Linked DNA regions of Homo sapiens: region 1 is linked to region 2. Evidence: fine-mapped expression QTL. Tissue or cell type: monocytes after Pam3CSK4. Region 2 holds a variant in brackets; the other region holds the start of a gene. All regions are shown on one strand. Distances are between the middles of the regions.

Region 1 (5,126 bases), 440 kb before region 2:
CCCTCAGGCAAAGGAGGACAGCAAGTCGGGGCAGTCCAAAAGCACTGCCTCTCGGATCACAAGACCTCTCCCTACCCCATAACAGGAAGTGTGGGCTCAGAGGGGAGGTGGCAAGGAAACAAAACAGGCACCAGGCCAGGCACAGTGGCTCACGCCTGTAATCCCAACACTTTGGGAGGCCGAGGTGGGTGGATCAACTGAGGTCAGGAGTTCGAGACCAGCTTAGACAACATGGTGAAACCCCGTCTCTACTAAAAAAACAAAAATTAGCCAGGCATGGTGGTGTGTGCCTGCAATCCCAGCTACTTGGGAGGCTGAGGTAGGAGAATTGCTTGAACCCAGGAAGTGGAGGTTGCAGTGAGGGCCGAGATCAAACCACCGCACTCCAGCTTGGGCAATAGAGTGAGACTCCGTCTCACAAAAAATAAAAATAAAAAAAGACACTGAGTGGGCCTGGTTGGTCTCAAAATTGCCACCGCTCCAGGTCAGGCAGGGTGGCTCACCGCTGTAATCCCAACACTTTGGGAGGCTGAAACGAGCTGATTTCATGAGCTCAGGAGTTCATGACAAGCCTGGGCTACGTGGCGAAACCCCAAGTCTACAAAAAATACAAAAATTAGCCGGGCTGTGGTGTGCACCTGTAGACCTAGCTACTCCGAAGGCTGAGGCAGGAGAATTGCTTGAGCCCAGGAGGCAGAGGTTGCAGTGAGCCGAGATCGGGCCACTGCACTCCAGACTGAGCAACAGAGGGAAACCCTGTCTCAAAAAAAAGAAAAGAAAAAAGAAAAAACGCCACCACTCCAAGCCTCTAGGGCAGTACTTCTCAAACCTATTTGCTTAGGAATCACCTGGGATCTTATTAAAACGTAGACTCTAATTCAGCAGGTCGGGGCTGGGCATGAGATTGTTCACTTCTGACAAGCTCCCAAATGATGCTATTATAACACCGGTCATCTAGGAACTACTTCGGTAACTAGGCGATAGACCACTTCCAAGTCAGAGGAGAAGGCCTGGAGAAGCCTTCTCTGTGGTCCAGCCTCATAGAACGGCAATCCTAGGGTCAGAGTGCCCTACAAGCTACAGGAGCCCCAAGGAGGAGGATAGTGGCTTAGAAGAGAGGTGCTCTCCTGGAGGTATACACCAATTTAACAAGTGGGCGTCTCCCAGTAAAAATTTTCTTAGGGGAAAGGGGGGAGTCAAGCTGTAGGTGTTGGCTCCCTAAAACAACTCACCACCTCAGAATTAGCTCCCAGGAGCAGAAACCAACGTCCTGCTGCCACACTTCTCTAGACTCAATCAGCTCTGCCCCACCCACTCCACAAAAGCTCTCTGCCGCGTCTTCCTCTAGGGGAGAGGTGACTGCAGGCTGGGAGACTCCCCAGCTGTGACTCAGACCGACGGAATCAAATCTGTTCCCCCAGGCTCAGCATTCACCAGATCCTGACCTCCCCCTCTGACCAGCCCCAACCCACCTTTCCAAGCCCCACCTCTCAGTCCATGGGCCACCCCTCGCCCACCCCACTTCCCTGTCTCTGGCTCATCTTCAGATGTGTCCCTAGCTCCCAACCCGTCCAAGCGCAGCCGAGTTTCTCGGTCCACATCGCCTCGATATTCCCACAGCATCTGTGGTCTCTCTTAAAAAAAAAAGTGTGCCCGTATCGCCGTTTTACGGAACGTCCCTGGAAGGTCCCTCGAGTGGCCCTCTCGGATGCTGAGGTCCTGTCAACGCCCCTTTGTCTCCCCGTGCGGCGCCGAGCGCAGTGCAGGACACACAGGAAGTGCTCCGAAACAGGGCTAGGGTGGGGGCGGCAACCGTGCCCGGAGGGGGCGCCCAGAGCGCAGGGACTCGGCCGGGCCGAGTGATGTTCCCCCCAAAAAACAAGAGTCATCGGGATGAGGGCCAGGGACCCCGAATTCAGCGCCGGGCAGCCCTCGGAGCCGGAGCCAGGCTGGCCGGGTCCGGCTCAGGCATCCCTTCCTTCCGGAGCCCCTCGACGCGCGTCCGGCCACCCACCTCAGCGCCCTCACCTTGTAAACCTTGCCGAAGGCGCCGTCGCCCAGCTCGCCCACGATCTCCCACACCTCGTTGGGGTCCAGGTCGCGGCGGACGTGCTCATATTCGCGGGACTTTCTCTTCTCGAAGGTAGACAGGCGCAGGATGCGGCGGAAATTGGCAAAAGCCATGGCCGGGGGCGCGGTGGCGCCGGCTCGGGCTCGGGCTCGGGCTCGGGCTGTGGCTTCGGCGGCCGCGAGGAGAAGGAGGAGGAGTTGGAGGACGCCGCGTCTCTCGGGGTTCTCCCCAGACCCGCCTTTCCCCGCAGCCCGACCTCGGTCAAGTGTGCCCTGGGCAGCGCCGCGCCGGGAGCACCCGGAACCGCGCAGGCGGCGGCGTGCCCGCCCCCGCCCCCGCCCTGTCAGGTCCCCAGGGCCGCCTCCCTTGTGCCGGCCTCGCAGCTCCTGCCCGGCCCAGCCCTGCCTGCGAGAGCCTCGGACCCGTTCCAGGGGACCGTCCCCGCGCCCGCCCACCGGCCCGGCTCCACCCGCCGCTCCCCGGCAGAGCCCCGGGACCCCCTAATTGGCTGCGGGCGCTCCCCGGCTCCGCCCGTCGCCGCAGGGCACTCTGGAAACTGTAGTCCCCCCACACCACGCTCCGCGAGCCGCGGGCTGGGCTTTGGGGAAGCTTCGGGGACCGCTCGGTGGGACCGCTCATGGACTCAGGAGCCCGCCCGCCGCGCCGCGTGGCTCCCAAAACTTTTATGGGAGCAAGCGGGACGGCGACTTGGCATTTCGCGAGAGCCCACGGATCGTTGTCAGCGCCCAGAAGGTGAACCTGCACTCGTTCATTTAATCCTCCCGCAGCTATTCCGCTAGGCTGCCCTCGCCCCCACTTTTCCGATGGGGACGCCGGCAGGCGAGGGCACTCGCCCCAGGCACACACGCTGGCTGCCCGTCTGCTGCGGGTTCCTCGGCGCGGTGCTGCCTCCTAGTGTGCGACGGGCAACGCCGGTGCAGCCGCGGCCAGTCCCTGCAGGGCCCGGCTTCCCGGCGCGGTCCTTTCCAGGGGCTCCCCGTCCACGATCCACAAACCTGCCAGGATTAGAGGGCTGGGAGAAAGAGCTCCTTTGGCACTGATTTCTCTTATGTTTCCTGATGGGTTTGCGGATGTATTTGCATATTAAATAAAAACTTTATTCTAATTTTTAATTTCCTAGTTTCAAAAAAGATGAGCGCACTACATACAGATCAAACTAAAGTCTTCTTTGAGCACCTTCATTCTCGATCCTGGCTACTTGAGTCACTTCACTGCTACTGTTGCCTGTTTGTCCTATAGACGGTTATAACATGCTTTTACCTGAATCTAAGGAGAGTGCTGGGGGTGGGGGGGGGGGGCGGGCAGTCTGCAAGGGTTATTATTTGGACCGTGTCATAAACAAGTTGAGTCTTCGCAAATGTCACAGTTCAATAGCTCCAACCCCAGAGAACGGCTGTGTTGAGGTGTTTTCGCCCCTTCCTCGGTGCTTTGTTCGAAAACATCCTTTGAACAGTGTGCAAACACCAAGCATGGTTTTCCACTGGGAAAGCCAGCTCAAGAAGCCTGCGATGCTGGTAGTGGTCGGCGCAGAGGGTGTCCTGGTTGCTAAGCCGTTCGGAATGTTTCCACAGCTGCAGGAGTGCCTGGAATTGTAGAGGGTCTTTAAAAGAAGGAAACGCCGCTCGTCGCTGACCGTTCTCATTGAGTCAGGCGCTGTCTGAACCTCCCAAAACATGCTGAAAGGCAGGTCTTTCATTTGTTTCAGACCATTTGGCCAACTGTACGAAGCGGGTGGGGAGACCAAGAGGGTTGCTTCCATACTAGGAGATGAAGGCTCTGACTCCACGAAAGCTGTAGGCCTGGAGGGCTCTGACCAGCTCTGAGAGCTCCAGAAAAGCAAGCAAGCGAGAGAAAGAGAGAGAGAAAGGAAAGAGAGAAAGAGAGAAAGAAAGAAAGAGAAAGGGAAAGGAAAGGAAGAAAGAGAGAAAGGAAAGAGAGAAAGAGAGAAAGAAAGAAAGAGAAAGGGAAAGGAAAGGAAGAAAGAGAGAAAGAAAAAGGAAAGGAAGAGAAGGAGAGAGAAAGAGGGAGGGAGGGAGGGAAGGAAGGAAGGGAGGGAGGGAGGAAGGAAGGGAAAGAAAAACGGAGAGGTTCATTCATTCAATAACACTAAGTCAAAGAAGCCAGACACAAAAGGCCCTGTGTTCTATAAATTTCCATTTATATGAAATGTCTGGAAAAGGCAAATCCATACAGACAGAAAGTAGATTAATGGTTGCCTGGAGCTGGGTGTGAAATGGGAATTAACTGTACATGAACAATAAACAGTCTAATTGGGGTGATGAAAATGTCCTAAAACTGCACAATGGTGACAATTTCATAATTTGGTAAATTTGCCAAAAATAATTGAATTTTAAACTTTCATTTTTGTAAATGGATGAATTTTATGTGTAAATTATACCTCAATAGCATTGTAAGAAATACATTGAGGTTCAATAGAATCAAAGCTACTTCTTTGAAATAACTAATAGACAAGACTAGTCAAAGAAAAAGAAAAAAAGGGTCGGGCACGGTGGCTCACACCTGTAATCCCAGCATTTTGGGAGGCCAAGCTGGGTGGATCACCTGAGGTTAGGAGTTCAAGACCAGCCTGGCCAACATGGCAAAACCCCAGCTCTACGAAAAATACAAAACTTAGCCGGGCGGGGTGGTGCACGCCTGTAACCCAAGCTACTTGGGAGGCTGAGGCAGAAGAATCACTTGAACCCAGAAGATGGAGGTTGCAGTGAGCCGAGATCGTACCATTGCACTCCATCTAGCCTGAGCAACAGAGCAAGACTCCGTCTCAAAAAAAAAAAGAAAAGAAAAAAAAAAAATTGGTGCAAGAAAGAAATATTCACTGGAAGAAATAAAAAATGAAAAGAGAACATCAGATTAGATACTGTAGAAATTTTGATAATCATAAAGTGATATTTTAGACAAATTTATGTGAATAAATGTTTTAATTTACATAAAATGGGTAATTATTGAGAAGAAAATATAAATGATAGGTAAAAGATAATTTCAATAAGAAATAAAAACCTAAATAAACTAGTAA
Region 2 (5,200 bases):
TTTCCCCTCCCCGACCCCCATCTGGCGAGGACAGGGCCTGTGTTGCTGGGAGACCCTGGCGATCATAAGGGATGGGGTGGAGGATGGTGGCAGATGGGTGGGCACAAGGCCCTTTCAAGGCAGCTGTTAGGATAGGGGCCTGCTTTGTGGGGTCTTTTCAAGAGCTGTGGCCACACACAACAGGGGATCAGAGAAGCCCCTTTCTTTGCTTTCTTCTTCCACACCTGCTCAGCCACCTGTTCCTCCAAAGGCTCCGGCCTCTCTCCTTCTCCTCTTGCTGACTCCACTGGGCTCCTCCTCCCTCTCCTGAGCCTCTTCCTGCTCCCCCACTGAGGCCCTCAGGGCTCCTTACAGACCAGACACCTGCCCTTCTTCCTCCACAAATCCTCAGCGCAGCACACAGCTTGGCTCCCAGGCCTTTGCCTGTGCTGTTCCTCCCCCATGAGTGCCCTTCCCGCTTGTCGTCACTTGTCAGAGTCTACTCACACCCCTGTTAAGAAAGAGCTCTTCTGGCCTGGCGCGGTGGCTCACGCCTGTAATCCCAGCACTTTGGGAGGCTGAGGAGGGTGGATCACCTGCGGTCAGGAGTTTGAGACCAGCCTGGGCAACATGGAAAAACCCCATCTCTATTAATAATACAAAAATGAGCCGGGGGTGGTGGTGGGTGCCTGTATTCCCAGCTACTCAGGAGGCTGAGGCAGGAGAATAGCTTGAACCTGGGAGGCAGAGGTTGCAGTGAGCCAAGAGCGTGCCATTGCACTCCAACCTGGGTGGCAGTGTGAGACTCTGTCTCAAAAAAAAAAAAAAGAAAGAAAAGAAAAGAAAGTGCTCTTCGTATTTGGGGTTCACATAGCCCCTAAGAGAATTTTGAAAACCACGTCCCCCACACAAACGCTTTTAGTTGGCATCTGAATGTTTTATCCTAAATGTAAATAGTTGCAAAGGTAATTTCTAGCGTGCTGTATGCTGAACATGCGCTTTAAATAAAATCTCACCAAAACCTTGGAGCTGTGGATTCCGCTCACTTATTTGCCTGAAAACTCTTCCATGCACACTGAGCGGCAAAGCCACTGCTCTCCACCGCACCATGCAGCCAGGTCAGGCTGACTTTCAGGCAGGAACTATATGAGTTCATTTTCTAATCTGCAAACATGCTAATATGCATGTCTGCATCACCTCTCTCTTCTGAATTTTATTTCTAAGTCTAAGACGGACAGGGCATTTGGCACCTGGATGGAACGAGGCTTCATCCTTCTGGCTTTCTCATGATGCTGTCTTGCTCTCCTGCCTGGGGATGCTTCCTTAGCACCTGGATGCAAATTGCCTTCCATTTAGTGCCCTGGAAGACGTTCTTTTAAACTTCTTATTGTGAAATTCCACACACAGAGAGAGGGCCCATTGTGTACGGATAAAACTCACGTGAAAACTAAAATGTGCAGTTCAATAATTGATCAAAAAGCAATCATCAAGTGAAGAAATAGAACATTTCTAGCTCCCCAGAACCCAGCCTTGGGCCACTGCTAATCACTACTCCTCCCTCTTGTTCAAAGGCAATCACCGTCCTGCATTTTACGATAGGCATTTCTTGCTTTTCTTTTGAGTTTTATCACCTACACACGCTGGGCTTTGAACATCATGTAAGTGGAGTCCCGTAGTATGCATTCTTTTGTGTCTGGCTTCTTTCACAGAACATTATGTGTGTGAATCACTCGGGTCGCTGTGTGTAGCTGTATTTTGTTTTTTCTCATTACGGCATAGTATTCCACTTTGTAAGGGTCTCCTAACTTATTGATCCAGTCTATAGTGGATGGACATTTGGGTTGTTCTCAGTTTGGGGCCATTTTGAATAGCATTTGATGAAAGCTATGATGCATTCATCAGCAGGTCTTTAGGTTCACATAAGTAAGCATTTCTGTTTGGCCTATGCCCAGGAGAGGAATTGCTGGATCATGGGGGTAGAAGTATGTTTAACTATGATAGATACTGCCAAATACTTTTCTAAAGTGGTTGTACCATTTTACACTCCCATCAGCCAGGTAGAAGAATTCCTGTCAACTCTTGGTATTGTCAAAATTTCTTCACATTTCTGTCAACTCTTGGTATTGTGAAAATTTTAAATCTCAGCCAATCTAGTTGGGGTGCTGTGGTTATTTCATTGCGACTTTAATTTTAGTTTTCCTGGTTATTGACAAGATTCAGTATCTTTTATATATTTATTGGCTATTGGAACATTCTTGTTGTGAAGTACCTGGTTTTGCTCATTTTATATTGAGTTGTTAGTTTTTGTCATATTTTTAGTTGTGTTTATTCTGGGGGAAAAAGTAGGCTCTCTTGTAGTTGTATGTGGGCAAAGTATCTTTCCCCACTCTGTAACCTGCCTTTTCACTCTCCTTTGAATGTCTTTTGACAGAAAGAATTTAAATTTCAATGGAGTTGATTTCATCAATCCTTTTGGTATGGCCACCACTTCCTGTGCCGTGTTGAAGAATCTGTCTACTGCTCTGAAGGCATAAAGCCGTTCTCTACTTTCTAGAAGTTTTACATTTTGTCTTTAACATGTATGTCTACAATTCCCCTGAAATTGATGTCATGAATGGTTTGAGGTCGGGATCAAGCTCCATTTTTTTCCATATGGATGGCCAATTCACCCAGCACTGGTCATTGAAAAGCTTGGCCTCTCTCCCAATACTTGGCAGTGTCACATTTGTCATAAAACATGCATCCATTTATGTCTGACTTTTTTATTCTATCCCATAGATAGATCTATTTGTCTATCCTTGTACCAACACTGCACTTATTTACCATCGCTTTATAATAGGTTTTGATAGCCAGAAGAGCTATCAACTCTTCTGGCTAAAAGTTCTTCCTTTTCAAAAATTGGTTATCCTTTACCCTTTGGGTTTCTACATACATTTTTTTGAAAACTAGAATTTGTTTTCCAAGTTA[A/AACAC]ACACACACACACACACACACACACACACACACACACACCCCTGTTAGGATTTTGATTAGAGGTGTATGTGTTGAATCTATAAGTCAGTTTGCAGAGAATTGACTTATTTAAAATATTGAGTGGTCCCACCATGAATATGATATATCTATTCATTTATTTTAGCATTTTTTGCTTCCTCTTAATAATAATCTATAGTTTTCTGAGTATTTTTTAGGTGAACCAATTTTTAAAAATCTATTAAGTGAATGATAGTACCGGCAACATTTGAATATGGAAAATCACGAAGACAGCCTCCATCCAGCAATGTTTCCAGGATGTTTTCTCTGTACCTCCAGCTGGCCTGGTATCAAAGGGACTTCAAACTGTACCTATGTCTGGGCCCTGCCCCTGGCCCTTCTTCCCCTGCCCAATCAGAGGCTAGCCCAGAGCTGGGGCCCCTAATAAACATGTACTGAAGTGAACACTGTCGGTCACAGGCTCAGCCCCCAGTGTTCAACTCATTACTAGAAAACTGACAATCCAATCCATGCCAACATGCTAAGGACAAGTCTGTTTCAGCTCACTGTATAAAACTGTATTATTTCAAAAGTAGTCTATTGAGTTCTCTCCCATTAGAAAAGTTTTGGTCAGGTGTTGTGGCTCACACCTGTAATCCCAGGACTGTGGGAGGATCACTTGAGCTCAGGAGTTTGAGAGCAGCCAGGGTAACATAGTGAGGCCTTGTCTCTTAAAAAAAAAAAAGAAAAAATTAGCTGGGCATGGTGATGCACGCCTGTGGTCCCAGCTACTTGGGAGGCTGAGATAGGAGGATTGCTTGAGCCCAGGAGCTTAAGGCTGCAGTGACCCATGATTGCAGCACTGCACCCCAGCTTAGGTGACACAGTGAGACTCTGCCTATCTCAAAAAAGAAAAAAAGTTTTATACATACTCATTACAGAATATTTAGAAATTGGCCAATAGGTAGAAAAAGGTGGAAAAAAATCACCCATATTCCTGTTCCTCAGAGATCATCACTGGCCATGTTTTGCTATGTTGCCTTTCACCTTGTTTCTATACACATTTTATGTTTGCTTATTTTCTTTTTACAAGCTTGAAATCACCCTGAGTTTAGAGTTCTGTGTTCAGCCTTTCTCACTTAACATTAAAACAGCCTTCTCCCTGCGACTCTAAACCCTTTGGGAATATCACAGCCAGGAGCTCTGTGATTGTATTGAGTGGCTTGCCTGTTTACTAAGCCACTGCCCTGTGGTAGGAAGTGTTTGTGACTTTATTCAGGTGTACGTGGTGTACAGTGAGCGTCTCTGGCCATCAATTAGCTTTGTCCCTATCTATCTGGGATTACATCCTCAGGACAGGTTCCTAGAAGTGGATTCCAGACTTGAAGAATGTGAGCAGAAGCCTATGAGGAGTTTAACAGCGGGAGTTCGAACCTGCAACTGTGGCTGTCATGGGGCACCTGTTTCTTGAGGATTTACTATTGCCAGACACTTGTGTAAATGCTGAAGCCTTATTAACTCATTTAATGCTCATGGCCCCCTCAGCTAGTTTCTGTTATTTGACTCATTCTACAGATACAGAACCTGCAGCACAGACAGGTCACGTGACCAGCCCAAGGTCACACCTGGTAAGTGCCCAAGCTGGGACTCAACCCTGGACCCTCAGGCTTCAGGACCCTGCCCTGACACCACAGGCAAATGGAGGATCCCGTTGGCTCCTTGAGACACTCGCACCTCCTCTCGTGGGCTTCTTCCTCTTGGCCTAAGGAATCTCTTCCTTCTGCAGGCGAGGAGTGAGGTGGAGGACGGGCCTGAGTCCACTCTGTCCCAGCTGCTTAGCCAAAGGGCAAAGCCTTCACCTCTCCGAGCTGCAGTTTCTTCATCAGTGAAACGGGCAAAGAGGGTCCCATAAATCTGAAAAGAGGCCACAAAAGGGGAATGGCTCTGTGAACTCGAAAGTGCTCCCAGGTGCTGGGTTCCCACAGATGGGCTGTCTGCTGCATGAATTTGCTTGGGGAAGGAAGAAGTCTCTGTCCCTGTCACCCACTCCTGGCTGGCCCAAGCCTGGAGTTCTTCCCACTTCACCTCGACTGACTGATTTTCTCAGAGCAGCGTCCTGACACCAGCTGGGCTGTGATGGGCAGTCCTTGCTGGTGGCTGAGTGGGAGTGGCTGCTCATCCCATGGTCCCCAGCGTCTGAAGCTAGGTGCTGCACAGAACAGGCGCTCCAGCAGCAGTCATGGGAGGCAGTTTCAGA

Evidence for each region. PIP is the estimated chance that this variant, and not a neighbour inherited with it, causes the effect.
Region 1: it holds the start of STK10, and the variant in region 2 is fine-mapped to the expression of STK10 in monocytes after Pam3CSK4 (Quach 2016, PIP 0.95).

The regions. Positions count from the first base shown.
Region 1 is chr5:172,185,859-172,190,984 of GRCh38, forward strand. STK10 (serine/threonine kinase 10) reads right to left here and starts at 2,366. Exons shown (of 19, transcript NM_005990.4): 1 at 2,029-2,366. The coding sequence starts at 2,184. RefSeq lists enhancers at 189-238, 509-558, 1,219-1,298, 2,351-3,126 and silencers at 1,759-1,838, 1,969-2,018, 2,319-2,678.
Region 2 is chr5:172,626,098-172,631,297 of GRCh38, forward strand. The region is part of intron 1 of LOC107986478 (a long non-coding RNA gene); the gene reads left to right. Among named protein-coding and RNA genes, the nearest start is that of NEURL1B, 13 kb to the right of the region's middle. RefSeq lists enhancers at 153-807, 4,452-4,952. The variant A/AACAC (reference allele first, on the strand shown) is at 2,947.